4 linked regions of the Homo sapiens genome follow. The protein of the gene in region 3 interacts with the protein of the main gene of each other region in a pairwise test. Each region holds a gene or a part of one and is shown on either strand. Other genes may lie near its edges.

The links. The genes of interacting proteins can lie anywhere in the genome.
Region 1: the proteins of DEFB127 (region 3) and ASZ1 interact in binary tests that used the Homo sapiens proteins (3 or more experiments, as listed by UniProt).
Region 2: the proteins of DEFB127 (region 3) and TFEC interact in binary tests that used the Homo sapiens proteins (3 or more experiments, as listed by UniProt).
Region 4: the proteins of DEFB127 (region 3) and FAM174A interact in binary tests that used the Homo sapiens proteins (3 or more experiments, as listed by UniProt).

The regions. Positions count from the first base shown.
Region 1 is NC_000007.14:117,420,776-117,424,555, reverse strand, and holds part of ASZ1 (ankyrin repeat, SAM and basic leucine zipper domain-containing protein 1), read left to right. Parts: intron 1-2,196; coding exon 2,197-2,319; intron 2,320-3,780. UniProt on the Homo sapiens protein: Plays a central role during spermatogenesis by repressing transposable elements and preventing their mobilization, which is essential for the germline integrity.
Region 2 is NC_000007.14:115,940,046-115,943,825, forward strand, and holds part of TFEC (transcription factor EC), read right to left. Parts: intron 1,996-3,780; coding exon 1,848-1,995; coding exon of another isoform or gene 1,830-1,847; exon of another isoform or gene 887-1,829; coding exon 506-886; 3' UTR 1-505. UniProt on the Homo sapiens protein: Transcriptional regulator that acts as a repressor or an activator. Acts as a transcriptional repressor on minimal promoter containing element F (that includes an E-box sequence). Binds to element F in an E-box sequence-specific manner.
Region 3 is NC_000020.11:155,893-159,750, reverse strand, and holds DEFB127 (beta-defensin 127 preproprotein), read right to left. Parts: upstream 2,298-3,858; 5' UTR 2,207-2,297; coding exon 2,158-2,206; intron 978-2,157; coding exon 727-977; 3' UTR 588-726; downstream 1-587. UniProt on the Homo sapiens protein: Has antibacterial activity.
Region 4 is NC_000005.10:100,580,312-100,584,025, reverse strand, and holds part of FAM174A (membrane protein FAM174A precursor), read right to left. Parts: intron 2,680-3,714; coding exon of another isoform or gene 2,661-2,679; exon of another isoform or gene 2,622-2,660; intron 1-2,621.

The DNA.
Region 1 (3,780 bases), on a different chromosome or scaffold from region 3:
TCAACCATTTGAAATTTGTTTTTAGTTACAAAAATTTTTAAAGTTCATTTTTAAAAGGCAGTAATAGAGATATAGGTAGAAGGAGAAAGATTTCTTTACCATTGTCCTCACTGTCATTCCCCTTACTGCTGATGCCTCACTTTCACAGGTTAACTCCTGTTTTAGGGTATTTCCTTCCAGATGTCATTATGTAACTCTTTTTAAAAATATTGTTAATTTTTTGCCTTTCAAAGTCATTATTGTTCTTGAAACATGCTTCTGCACCAATTGGAAACTCTAAAAATAAAAGCACATTTTGAGTCAGCCACTTTTAACCATTTGAAGATGTCTCCAGTTTTTGTTATTCTGTGTACTATCATTTTCAATTTTCTTTAAAGTATGACATATTTTAGACATTCAGAAAAGTACGGTACCCCCTCTGGAGATAACTACTTTTCTATAGTTGATGTTTATCATTCTTATGAGTATCTTTATACTTTTACTATGTCCCTAAACAATATAGTATTATTTTGAATGTTTTTGAGCTCTATAAATATACTGTGTTCATCCTTTTGAAACTTACCTTTTTTTGCACTATGCCTGGAACATAATATGTGCTTAGTAATTTATGTTAAATATTAGAGGTTAAATATTAAGTTAGAATTTTAGTAAGAATTTTTATACTAAAATGCCACATTTGCTTTTTTTTTTTTTTGAGATGGAGTCTCACTCTGTCGCCCAGGCTGGAGTGCAGTGGCATGATCTTGGCTCACTGCAAGCTCTGCCTCGTGTGTTCACGCAATTCTCCTGCCTTGGCCTCCCAAGTAGCTGAGACTACAGGCACCCACCACCACGCCTGGCTAATTTTTTTTTTTTTTTTTTTTTTTGTATTTTTAGTAGAAACAGGGTTTCACTGTGCTAGCCAAGATGGTCTCAATCACCTGACCTCGTGATCCACCCACTTCGGCATCCCAAAGTGCTGGGATTACAGGCATGAGCCACCGTGCCTGGCCTTTGCTTCTTTTTCTTTGCATCTTTTCCTTTCTATCTTTGCTATCACAGTTTGAGCAGTATTCTCAATAAATTGAGAAAACAATGATCTTTTCTCTGATCTCATTGATAAGCTTTCAATCAAAGCAGTTCAAAGAGGAAGATTTGTTAGAGAAGACAAGTAGGGCTAGCAGTAGATGTCTATACTAAGATGGTTTAATGTTTTCTCCCAGTGATTATTATGTACCTTATATCAATTAAAATTAGACAGTTAGAAATTAGACATATGTAGTCTTTCAGTGACCCGGTGTTTATACAGCCAAAAAAGTGACAGAGTGAGATCCTAAAAAAAAACAACAAAATACAAACAAACAAAAAAAACTTACTTTCAATACCTGATATCTCCCTTTATTTTAGCTCACTGCTTGTCATTCGATTGTCCAAGACAGAATTTGATAGTCATTTTTAATTTGTTGTTGTCCATCATACCTCCTCCTCAAAGTAATTTTAAATTCTGATGACCCTGCCTTTGAAATGTCCTTTTGTTTTCCTTCCTTTCTCTCTCCACTGCCCTTGCTCTGATTGTCGTATAAACTTCCTGTGTTATAACTAGTTTCCTTGCCTCCTGTCCCATTCTCAATAGTGGTGTCTATGTTGTCTTTATAATACATATGTAATGATGTCAGTTCCTGGATCACAAAACAGAGTCTGCGTTTCTTAAGGGAGTTTTCATAATCTAACCTTAACCTGTCTTTTTAGCTTCATGTTTTATCAGTCACCCATGGGTAAGTTTAGTGTTAGGAATAAAGTTAAAGGTTTTTGAGGGATATATGTGGTATTTTCAACCATAGAGATAACTGATATTGCCCAGGGATAATATTCTAATTTAAAAGACATTTTACCTCTGTGAAACCTTTCCAGCTCCCCTAGAGAAAAAAAAGGTAGCATGTAAAAACCTGTTATAATATACATACTCAGTTACATATATGATAAAACATCAGTCATATCAGTCTCGGAACATAGTGCCTGTAGTGAAACTGAAGTTAGCAAATTGTGTTAATGTCCCAATATAACTATTTTGTATTTTTTGGAAGCCATTAAAAACTTCCCATGGTGGAATAAAGTACATGATGTACGTCACTTTACACAGTACTTTAAGCATATAAGGTGACTGATTTTTTTCTTTGGTGGTAGTGTGCTTTTAAAAGCTTGTTTTTATATTGACAGGCATTAGTGTAGATTCCAACTTTCAGTATGGATGGACTCCCCTTATGTATGCTGCTAGTGTTGCCAATGCAGAGCTGGTTCGGGTCCTTTTGGACAGAGGTGCTAATGCAAGCTTTGAGAAGGGTAAGATGTTTTAGATAACTTAAATGATTATGCTTACTGTGATTCCTTGGTTTCCAAGTAGCTATTATATAAAGTGCAAAAAACTAAAGCCATTTGAAGTAACCTTTCTATTCATTATACTATGTAAATAATATACAAAATCAAATTAGAAACCATACATATTCTGAAAAACTCTCTTTCCAAAAACATAAATTCCAGTTATAGTATCTTTATAACTGGTTGTTATTATATATCTTTAAGGTTTTGGTTGTTTTTAAAGGAAAAATTCTTGAAAGAAACATTAAAAAGTTTATAATTTAGTGGCAAATTACTGGAAAATCAGTCTGTGGAATTTTAAACTAAACTCCAAATTACATCACTTAAAGTTGTTTCAAAGATAGTTCATGAAATCCATCTTTGTCCTTGTTACTAAATAATTTCCATTCAGAAGTGCTTTGAGTGTAAGAAGAACAAGAGTATATGAGCAAATCCAGTTTAATTATTACATTGAATTCCTGATTACTTATTTTTAACATATTTTCAATAGACAATTAAATTTTCTTCATAATTTCAGGTATAGGTTTCATTTTAGAATTGATTTTTACATTTTATACCTACAATTTTATTCTTTTTTCTCATTTATATATTTTACATAAATTTCTGTCTTAGCAACAGTTTCATGTTTAATATTTTCTATTAGGTTTTTCTTTTTATTATATCATTTAAAAATATCACTTGGCCAGGCATGGTGGCTCATGCTTATAATCCTAGCAATAGCACTTTGGGAGTCTAAGGCAGGAGGATCACTTGAGCCCAGGAGTTCAAGATCAGCCTGGACAACATAGTGAGACTTTGTCTCTACTAACAATAAAAAAATATTAGCCAGGGGTGGTGGCACACACTTATAGTCTCAACTACTCAGAAGGCTGAGGCAGGAGGACTGCTTGAACCCAGGAGTTCGAGGTTGCAGTGAGTTATGATCATGCTACTGCACTCCAGCCTGGACAACAGAGTGAGACACTGTCTCAAAAAAAAATTACTCAATGAAAGCTATGCTTAGGAATGAGGTTTTCAAAAGTGTATAAAATATTCTGCTCAAAAAATTAATTAATAATTATTCTTTTTATACTTCCCCCTCCTTGTAATCAGAGGGATAGTTAGAGCTATAAAATATATTTTTCACAGAATGTACACATGAGTTTTTTATGTGTCCCACAATAACCCTGTTACATACAAAGGGCAGATACTAGGTTCTTATCTGTATGTTAAATCTAATGAGCTATTAAGATATCACAAGAGTTACAGTTTCTTAGTGGCAGGACTGGGACTAGAATATGCTCTGTCAGTATTGAGCCACTAATGTGAATCATAGCTGTTGTGACCTATTTTGAAGTCTTAATTCAAAATAGGTGTTTTTTGTGTTTAATTTACTCTGATCTTTGCTGGCACCATGAGAGCCAAGGGAAGAAGAGTTTTAGGAAA
Region 2 (3,780 bases), on a different chromosome or scaffold from region 3:
TTTATCCTATAAAGTTTGAACTTTAGACATGTCTACTAGACAATGGAGAAAGGCAATGACCACCTGATATGTTGATCTTGATTCCGGAAGACTGATGTGAAAGTTGAAGAGAAGATGGAAATGAGTAACTAAGAGACTGTTTGTATATTTCAGTCGTTTAACACTTTGCAGTCATTAGTTCCAGTAGTACACCACCAAGTTGCTGCTTTTAAAACATCAATAAAGAGCTATTTCTTATGCTGTACCTCTTTTCAGGAAAACAGAATTTAAGTGGATTTGGACTCCGTAGTCAAAGAAGAAAACACCTTTTTTTCGCCCTCAATAATTCATTAACACTATGATTTTTCTTCCTGCGAATTCTTCTGTTGCTTCTATCAGTTTTTCATGAACAACACATTCCTTTAAGAAAAAAAATAAGCCAAAGCAACATATGAAACACAGAGCATAATTGCATAGCACCAGCATAGAATTGCTTTCCAGTTGATGAATTGGGTCTGTTTATTTCTTATAATTCATCACCATCATCTGAGCTAAAGCTACTTCTCCTACTGCTTTCTTTGGAAACTGCAGGGGAAGTGGCAGATAGCAGAGGATCTGTTCCAAATGGAGAGATTGTGTCATCCAATAGCATGCCATCCAATCTTTGTTCCTCTTTCAATGCAGCACTAAATGATAAATCTGTGAAGTATGACAAAGGATCAGAAAAGGCTATAGCTTGATCACAGAGCTCAGGGCTTGGCCCCTGAGACACAGTCAGTTGTTGGCAATAGTCTACTGAATTCTGCTCAGGATGGCTCTGCTGTTTGGTGACATGAGCACCTAAATCAACCGTGCCAAGTGAAGCCAGGGTTGGCAGACCATGAGTACGAGCCTGAATTTCTAGTTCCTGTAATTTCAAACGAAAATCATTAAATAATGTCTTTGAAATTGGATTTAACACTAGAGAATAAGCCAGACATAGAATCAAAATATTAACAAGCATTTAAAATGAAGAGTAATACAATACAAATTATGAATAATCTTTGCAAATAATGAAATTGATACATTTCTGATGCATGAAAAATAACTCTGAGAAAATTACTCAGACTTTTTTTTAAGTTTGGTCTCATTGTTCTACAAAGGTTATGACTGATGATGGTTCCATAGTGGCTCAGACTACAATATAGCCATTTGGAGATAGCAGAAAGTCATCTATTTATTCTTCCTGATTAATTTCTCACTGTAAATGCAGGACCTTTTCATGGAAACAGTAAATGTTTTACCTGGTGCTAAGCATACTCACATTTTTAAAAAATCTTGAGAGTTATAAAAGCCCATATTTTGATATTTTGGATTATATGAACAGATGAGAAGTGACTTAATATACACTGTCACAACATGCCTTGAGGCAATGAAATCCATAGCAATGTTGGAAAGAAATGAAAGAAGGAGGGGAGAATTTAATGTCCAATATAATGTAGAGAAACAAATGTTTTACTTAGTATTATTATTTGATTAGGATAATAATGTGTGCATTTATGAAATGAGTTATATTTTATGCATTTTGTAATTTGTTGTCATTATATATGTGTATATATATATACATGCACACATACACACATATATACACATATATGTGTATATACATATATACATATATACATATTCAGCCATCTTGATCCTGGATTTCTAGTCAAATCCTAATTGAAACAACCCAATTCACGAACTTCTAAAAAGCAGTAAAATTATCCTTCAAAAGGAAAAATAATTGTTAATAAGAGAAAAAATAAATGAGACCAATGAAGAAAACTGATGACAGCTGAGTCATGTGTAAGCTATGTGACTCATGGCTACATTCTTATAAAAACCTGAATCCGAAGTAGAAGTCGCCTGTTAGCCTGCTCTAATTTCTTCTGTCTGTGTTCCAATTCTCGGGCTCTCTGTTGTTCTTTTTGTAGCCACTTGATGTACTCCACTGATGCTTTTAGAATGGTTCCTTTGTTCCAGCGCATATCACTGTAGAATGGAGAGATAACCTTTTCACAATTGTGCATGTCAGCAGAATTCATAAGAACTTACAAAATCTTTTACATTAATATGAAATAATGATTTACATGACTATTATTCACTCTTAGATATTATTGCTTCTGAATAGAAATTTTAATAGAATAGTTAAGAAGCCCTTATATAGTAAAATTAATCCCAGAATGAAAATAAGTGTCAAAAGAAAGTAATAAAGTGACTTTTTGTGGGAGAGCTAAATGCAATATCATGATTCTACCATTACAGTTTTTATATTTTTAGTGAAAATTGCTTTTATTATTAACTCCAAGATTAAAATCTATGTGCAGTATTTCTGCATTAATGAACTAGGAAATGTACATTACTGAGGACTTAAGCCTAAATTTTTTAAGATCATTTCAAATGTAGCAATCTTTTAACCTATTTTCTAATAAGGTTGCTTTTATGTTTCTAAGAAAAAATTAAAGTCCCTCCTGAATGGTGATCCTGAGCAATTGTGAAACAAATCAGACTCTGGCAACATCACTTTATGTAATAGAGCAAACTTTCTAAAACCATTCAGTCATTTTTTTTCTATACAAACATCATCAAAACTTTTTAAAAGCTTGATGTGAATAGCTATTTTTAAATACATTTAAGATAAGTAAATATAATTAAACATTACTGGATAACTTTTTAGGCTATAGCATAGAAGAAATCATTTCATTAAAACTTACTTTTAAGACAGGAGAAATTAAAGATATGAAATTGTGGAAGAGGCTACTGATTTTGATATCTGAAAATATACATTAATGAATGTAATACTGCATGAGAACTAATAATATGTTTGGAGAATGAGTCCAAAGTAATTGCTAAATGTTAATCAGAGTTGTTGGAAAACCTGGATACATTTTGAATTTAGAGTCACGAGATGTTTTTAATATAGCATAAAGTACACAGGTAGGGAAATATAACATTTTTCTACATATATTTTTGGTGATGTGACAATGCCATTAGCAGTAAAATATTAAAAGAAGAGACATTTTTCTACCAGCAGGTGAAAGTGCTTACTGGAGCCTGGATAAGAGCTCTGTTCTACTGCAATGCACCAAAACATTGTCAATGGACATCGCAAGTTTGAAAATGCTTTGTCATTTCTTTAAGGCTATAATGGCTGTTGGTCTCATTCCACTCACAGGGGGTGAGGGGAATGAGTGGGATGGTGGTGGTGGGAAGGGTGGGGAGAGACAGTCTATCTTTGGTGCTAAACCAAGTATCTGTAACTGAAACATGTAATGGACTCTAAACTAAAATTTAAGTAGTAGCAAAAGCCTTATGGACCCTTATTTTGTGTCATTTTTTCTCATGGAAAGAAAAGCTTGAGGACAGAGAAACAGATTTAAAAAAAAAGATAACCCTAGCCATATTTGAAGTTTAAAGTACTATTAGTTCAAAAACAAACCTTCAAAATGGTAGTAGAGAACACACAATGAGCCTCCCTTCAATTTGTACCTGATGTCACTTACAATAATTTTTTTAAGTTCCTCTATTTTAAAGAAATTTTAATGTACTAGATTCTTTCCTATTTATTTTTTATATTTACTAAAGAGACTTTTGCCTCTCTCCCAAAACAATTTCAACAAAGTAGGCATTACAAATATTATATAGGGTGGTACCATATAAACACAGACACACCAATAAAGGCATGGCTAAAGAATGAATGTTGATAGTTGATGCTGGCCCTTCATTTTCTGCACAACAATTTTTTAAGATCTTAAAATGTTGGTGGATTAAAAGCCT
Region 3 (3,858 bases):
AAACCTAAAAACTTTTGTGTTGGAGTTATTTACTTAGGTCTTCTCCACTTCATAGAGGAAGCGTTGAGCTCCACTGTTGAGCTCCACAACAGTGGAATCTTATTTATCTCCGTCTTCCCAGTTCACTGCTGGTACACAGGAGCTTAGGAAATCAGACTTCCCCCATAGTTCAACTTTGAGTGCTCTGTTCTTCATCCAAACAAAGTGCATGTATAGTGTCTTGAAATGTTCTGTCTTTTCCAATTTCCTCCCATTCTGTTCACTCAAATTGCCTTCCCTACCAAACCTCATCCATGGAAATCCTACTTATTTACTGCTTTACTATTTACTTATTTACTACAAGACACTGCTTTATTCCTAAACTTACTCATGAATTTCCCCTGAATATTTGCTTCACCTTTCCCTCTCCTAAATTACATGTCAGTGTTTCTGAGTTTCTTATTCCAGACTTCCACACTATAGGACTTTTTTTTTTTAGTGTACTTGTCATATCCCCTTTTCAAGGAGAGGTTCTGAGTTCTTATCAATTCATTACCTAGTATATAATGAGTGTTCAACCCCTGGTTAAAGAACAAAATGAGACAGAAAACTGGCAATGCACTTTATTAGAATATGCTCGAAGGTCATTTTAAGGATCAAGAAACCAAAAGGAAGAAGATGTATATCTCATCACCTTAGTTTATTAGACTAGGTTGAGAAGCAAGTGAAAACGAAATTGTATTTGATTTATGTAGACTGTGTCTTCAGGCTTGGGAAATTTTCTATTATTGTAACATAGTCTTGAAGAGTCAGTGCAAGTGTTGCTGGCTTTGGACGAGGTGGCTTTGTAATTTTTTTACATGCTTCCAGTTCCTTGATATTGAGGCAACAGTATCTCCCATTTTCACATAGTGCCTCAGGCACTTCATTTACTCTGCAGATTTTCCTGCAATGTCCTTGTACATAGTTATTCCAGCACTTCTTAAGTTGTTCGGTTACTATACACAGAAAGGAGCAATAGAACAATATCAGTGTTTGAGACTGAAGGCACGTTGGTTTTGGGGAAGACAGAGGAGGCTTGTAGGAATTAGGGGTATGGGGTATCCACAAGGCAGACCCTCATATATTCTGAAGAGGATTTTCCGACAAGGTCAACCTCAGTGTTTGTATTTAACTGGATCACTTATATTTAGGTCCTGTGAGGTTTTAGGCCTCCCTTAACATCTGATAGACTCTGCCAAGAACATAAGATCTTATCTGAGAAAATAAAGGAGCTGAACCCTTGATTCTAGGCTATGGAACTATGCTCTACATAGGAACCTCAGCAAATCTGCCTGCATCCTGAATGCTCCCAGAGCACTACCTTCTACTGCACCTCCTCTGATGCCCAGAGAACAATGTATTGTTACTATGTGTTTATGTCTGAATCAAACTGTTCTCCTGAGTTCAAACCCACTATCAGGGTCAAGAATGACTTTCATGTTATCCAGTAAGGTAGTAGTCTATTGGGTCTTAGGAATGTAGAGGGTCAGGAATAGGCCATTACTATTCTTATAATAAGGGACACATGTAAGAAATCTGGTTTTGAAAGAGGAAAGGAAACTCTAATTTTTGAGTTCTCAGTATGTGCCAAGCTTCACATAGGTTATATCATTTAATAAAACCCCTGTTAACCAGGTGTCATTATCTCCATAGATGAGGAAACTGAGGCTCCTAGAGTCTTCACTACTTAAAGTTGACAAACTAGTAGATATTGAAGGCATGTTTCTTAAACCTAACTCCAAAATTTGCTTCTTCCTCTATTCATGCACACACACACACACACACACACACACACACATATATATATTTGAGTAAAAGGAAATATAGCTGAGCATCAGAGTAAAAACCATATCCAAAGACATAAAGGTATCCCTAGATATTGGCATCATTCCTTTCTATAACAACACATCTTTCCCAGAAGAAATTATGACCTCTTTTTAGCTCAGTGAGTACTCCTCTTTAAGGATAGTAACATGGAATAAGGCTCCAGAAAGAGGAAATTTCTGATGATGTTGGATAAACTTTAGCCATCTTTGGGGGCTCTATTTCCCTTTAGTGTGGATTATGAAGTTCCCTTTGGCTCCTGAAAATGCTCCATCCCACTGTTGATTTGAGTGAGCTTCTGGTTTGGTTTACCTGTGGGTTTCTGGAACAGCAGAATTGCAATGATCATGAAGAGCCCCATGGCCAGGCTTTCCAGAAGAGGTGCAGCCAAAGCTTTTGGTCCAGTGAACTGCACACTATGCTACCTTCCTCAGAGACTTAGATTCTTATGCACTGAACCAGAACAGATGGGATGATATGAAGTGTGTCCTTAAGCTTCTGAACTGTGAGCTTTGCATCATGCAGGCAGACACAGGAAATTTCAGGCCACCCACTTTACCCCCACATGGAATAGAGATACAGCATGTTCCATCCCATCGCACCAAATGCCGCTGTGTAGGCTGTAGACTGCTGGGAAGAATCTGTGATTTTCCTGCTTTGACTCTCTGCGCAGCCGGACCAAGATCGAAATGTACTCACCTCCAAGAATGAATGTGGCAGTATAAACCAGGACATAAATCTGAAACTCTAACAATAAGAATTTCTAGTAGGTTTCTTGCACATTTCGAAAGAAGGTATGATGTAGTTGGGTCTGATCTGAGGTCACCTGATTTTTTATAAAAGCACCAAGAACATACACTGGGGAAAGGATACCCTCTTCAATAAATCATGCTGGAGAAACTGGATTTCCATGTGCAGAAGAATATATATTATGTATATATATATGTACACACATATATACATATATATGCACACAATGGAATACTATACATACATAACACACAATGGAATATATATATATATATATACACACACACACACAATGGAATACTATTCACCCATAAAAATAATGAAATTCTGTCCTTTGCAACAACATGGATAGCCTGGAGGACATTATGTTATGTGAAATGTCAGGCACAGAAAGATTACCACATGTTCCTATTTATATATGGGAGCTAAAAAAGTTGAGCACATGGAAGTAGAGAGTAGTGTTGCAGATATTAATATTAGAGGCTGGTAATGATTAGGGAGAGGGGAGGATGGAGAGAGATTGGCTAATGGATGCAAAATTATAGATAGGAGGAATGACTTCTGGTGTTGTAGCACTGTAAGGTGAATATGGTTAACTACAATTTATTGTATACTTTTAAAAGGCTAGAAGAGAGGATTTTGAATGTTCCCAATACAAATGATAAATGTTTGAGGTGACGGATATGCTAATTACCCTGGTTTGATCATTACACATTATATGCATGTATTGAAATATCACTTTGTATCCTATAAATAAGTACAATTATGTGTCAACTAAAAATAAAAGGAAAAATGGCTAAAATGGCCAATGTTATGTCATATATTTTACCACAATTAGAAGAAAAAGATGCATGAGGGTATTTTTTTTCTACCAGTTGTACCTTGTCTTTGAAAATATTAAAATGTTGCCACAAGGAATCGATGTTTACCTAGATCATTCTTTGATCATTGATTGCAGTTTTCAAAAAATTTCAACCCTGTTAACCACTGAGATGCATTAAATAAATAAGCCAGTTGGCTTAGAGATGAGCCCTATGGCCATTATTCAGGTCACGTAGTGGTTTTACACAAGAATATGTTTAAACAGAGAGATGTTGACATATAAGAAATCCTTTTTAGAGGCAAATGTAAATTTAAGAGCAGTTACCTCAGAGGTCTCAAGGGTCACCTCCCTTTACTTTTGCCACCAGCTTTTACATGGTTTAAGTCCTAGTCAAGGGATTGGTTTTATTATTTATAGTCTTCCTGTGAATGCAAACTTTC
Region 4 (3,714 bases), on a different chromosome or scaffold from region 3:
TGGCCTGGGCCACAAAGAACCCCAGGAATTCAACACTGAAGGCATTGAAGTGGTCTACTGGCCTCCAAATACAATGTTTCTAATTCAGCTTTGAGATAAGGGGGCCATAAGGATGCTTAGGCTTATTACACCCAGTACGCTATGGAAAGGTTTATTCAACACTATGGAAGAGATCCCAATAGAGAGAACGTCATGAAAGTCTAGAAGGAATATACCATTGAAGATGCTGCTATTTTATTGAAAAAGACTTGAGAGCCATCAAGTGCAAAACAGTAAGTTCTGCTGGAGGAAACTGTTTCAAGATGTTGCACATGACTTCACAGGATTTACAATAGAGCCAATCAAGGAAATCATGAAAGAAACTGTGGATATTGCAAAAAAAAAAAATCGGTAATAAAAGATGTCAAGATGAGGATCTTGGAGTAATTCAAGAGCTAACTGACATTACAATGGAACAATGAACAGAAAATGACTTGATGGAGATGAGTGCTTCTGAACCAGTGCCACATGATAAGGAAGAAGATGTAGAAGAAGCTGTACCAGAAAACAAATTGGCAGTAGTCAATGTGGCAGAAGAATTCCAATTATTCAAGACTGCTTTCAACTTCTTTTATGACATGGACCTTTCTATGATATGGACACTAAAACTAAAGCAAGCTGTGGAAGAAGAATTGGTACCAATAGAAACAGTTTTAGAGAAATCAAAAGGCAAAAATCTCAGATGTGTTTCTGTAAAGTTACACCAAGTGTGCCTGCCTCCCCTTCCACCTGCTTCAACTCTTCTGCCTCTACCACCCCTGAGACAGCAAGATCGGCCCCTCCTTCCTCCTTCTCTTCAGCCTACTCAACGTGAAGACAAGGATGAAGACCTTTATGAGATCTACTTTCACTTAATGAACAGTAAATATATTTTCTCTTCCTTATGATTTTCTTAGTAACATTTTCTTTTCTTTAGCATGCTTTGTTGTAAGAATAGAGTATATAATACATATAACATACAAAATACATGTTAATTGACTGTTCATGATATTAGTAAGTCTTCCAGTTAACAGCAGGTTATTAGTAGTTAAGTTTTTGGGGAGTCCAAAAATTACACGTGGATTTTTGACTGTGTAGTTGGTGCCCCTAGCCCCCATGTTATTCAAGAGCCAACAACAGTTATTCATTTCTATGGTTCCTATAAATACAGTTATTTGTTCCTATTTCTAACCTTCAGAAATGAGGATTACTAAAGCTACAAGCTACTAGGTATAATCTATAAAACAATCAATGCTTTGGAAATTTATAATACGGTAACAAAAATTATCCATACTAAAGACAAGATTTCCAATAAACACTACAATGGGGCAAGTTTGCCCATTTACTCTCTTATTGCCTAACTAGTTTATTATAATATAAAACTATATTTTGACATACAAATTTTTATAGATTTTAATTCTAATTATACAACTTTACTACTACTTAATTTAAATCCTGCCTTCCAAAAATATTTCTGCTAGTAAGAGCCATCGTAATGAAAAGCATTTGATCAAACCAAATTAAAAAAAAAAACAAAATGTGCATATTTTACAAACTTAATAAATCTTCCTTTATAATCATCAATAACATTTAGAACTTCATTGGAAAAACATCTGAAAATGAATAATGCTCTTTTTCATCTTATCTGAATCTTTAGTCAGCAGTCTGTAATAGTTCTCTAAATGATTAGTATAAGATAATGAGGTTCTAATATATTTTTACTTTGAAAGTAAATTTAATCCTTTAAAAAATATACTGAAGGTTATTAAAAAAAAACATGTAACACTTAGAATTCTTTTGTACAGCCCTTGTCCTTTTAACGCTTGAAACCCATGATAATACTGATAATGAATTTGTAGACTATGAAAAAAAGTCAATCTGTAAAATCAAAATTGCAGTTTCATAAACTAGGAGAACACAAAATTACTAGAACCTAATCCAAATTCTATCACTAAATAGCCTTTTGAACTTGACTATATATGAGACCCTGAGGAATATCTAAAAGATTTTTTTCAAATAGAAAATTACCTACCACATAAAGAGTCTCTTAAGATATGGTTTCAGAAAGGCGTTTTGAGACTCGTAATTAACCTCAAAACATATGCAAATTAGCATAACTATTATGATCTAGCAATCATATTACATTGTGCCCAACATTTCCTTGAACCTGTTTATATTTATAAGACTGTATGACCAGCTCTCTCATTTAGAGTATTTCATTCCTTGAGTGGGAATTTCCTCAGAATTCTATTCTGGATGTTTTCATGCTGTTCAGGGGCTACTGTAGGAACCACCACTCCCCACTCCCTCCCTGGCATGACTCAACCACGACCAAATGTAATATTGAAGAAGGCATTCTTATTTATATGCCCAATTGGAATTATTTTTAACTTATCAAGAATTAAGCCAATTCTCTTCCAGCCTTAAGCATGGTCTTCCAGCCTTAAGCGAGGTCTTGAATTCCAGACCTCAAGTGATCCGCCCACCTTGGCCTCCCAAAGTGTTGGGATCACAGGCATGAGCCACCATGCTGGGCCTTCATAGGCTCTTATTTGATTAACTTATATCTTTAAAAAAATAACTTTAACTCAATTGCCACCTACTCAGTGAAATCCATGTTGCTATCCCTCAGTTGCTCTTTCTCAGGAATTCCACAGCAGTCTGAAAAAAGTGGAGAATCAATATGGTATGAGAAAAGTAGCTAAGGATTCCTACTCTCTGGAGAGGTGATATAGAAGTTGTAGAAGGTAGACTGGTTGACTCAAAAAAAATGCCGCAGGCCTTGTGCAGTGGCTCACGCCTGTAATCCCTGCACTTTGGGAGGCCCGGGTGAGTGAATCACCTGCAGTCAGGAGTTCGAGACCAGCCTGGCCAACATGGTGAAACCCCGCCTCTACTAAAAATACAGAAAATTAGCCTGGCATGGTGGCAGGCACCTGTAATCCCAGCTACTTGGGAGGCTGAAGCAGAAGAATCGCTTGAACCCGGGAGGCAGAGGTTGCAGTGAGCTGAGATCACGCCATTGTAGTCCAGCCTGGGCAACGAGAGCCAAAATCTATCTCAAAACAAACAAACAAACAACAAAAACAAACAAACAAACAAACTCTGCAACAGAACCAGGAGTACACGGTATAATCTTAGTGGGTCTGTTAACAGGACGCTCTTTTGGCAAGAATGGCAGGGATAGAGGCTGTGCTCCAAAACCAAGCAGGACAAGCTATCCCTCAGCTGTGGCCAGCAAAGATAGAAGACTGCAAGTGTGATGGTTAATACTGAGTGTCAACTTGATTGGACTGAAGGATACAAAGTATTGATCCTGGGTATGTCTGTAAGGGTGCTACCAAAGGAGATTAACATTTGAGTCAGTGGACTCAGAGCGGCAGATCCACTCTTAATCTGGGGTGGCACAATCTAATCAGCGCCAGCATGGCTAGAATATACGCGGCAGAAAAATGTGAGAGACTGGCCTAGCCTCCCAGCCTACATCTTTCTCCTGTGCTGGATGCTTCCTGTCGTCGAATATCGGACTCCAAGTTCTTCAGTTTTGGAACTCGGACCTGCTTTCCTTGCTCCTCAGCCTGCACATGGCTTATTGTGGGACCTTGTGATCGTGTGAGTTAATACTTAGTAAATTCCCATACATATATATTCCATTAGTTTTGTCCCTCTAGAGAACCCTAATACAGCAAGTATGAC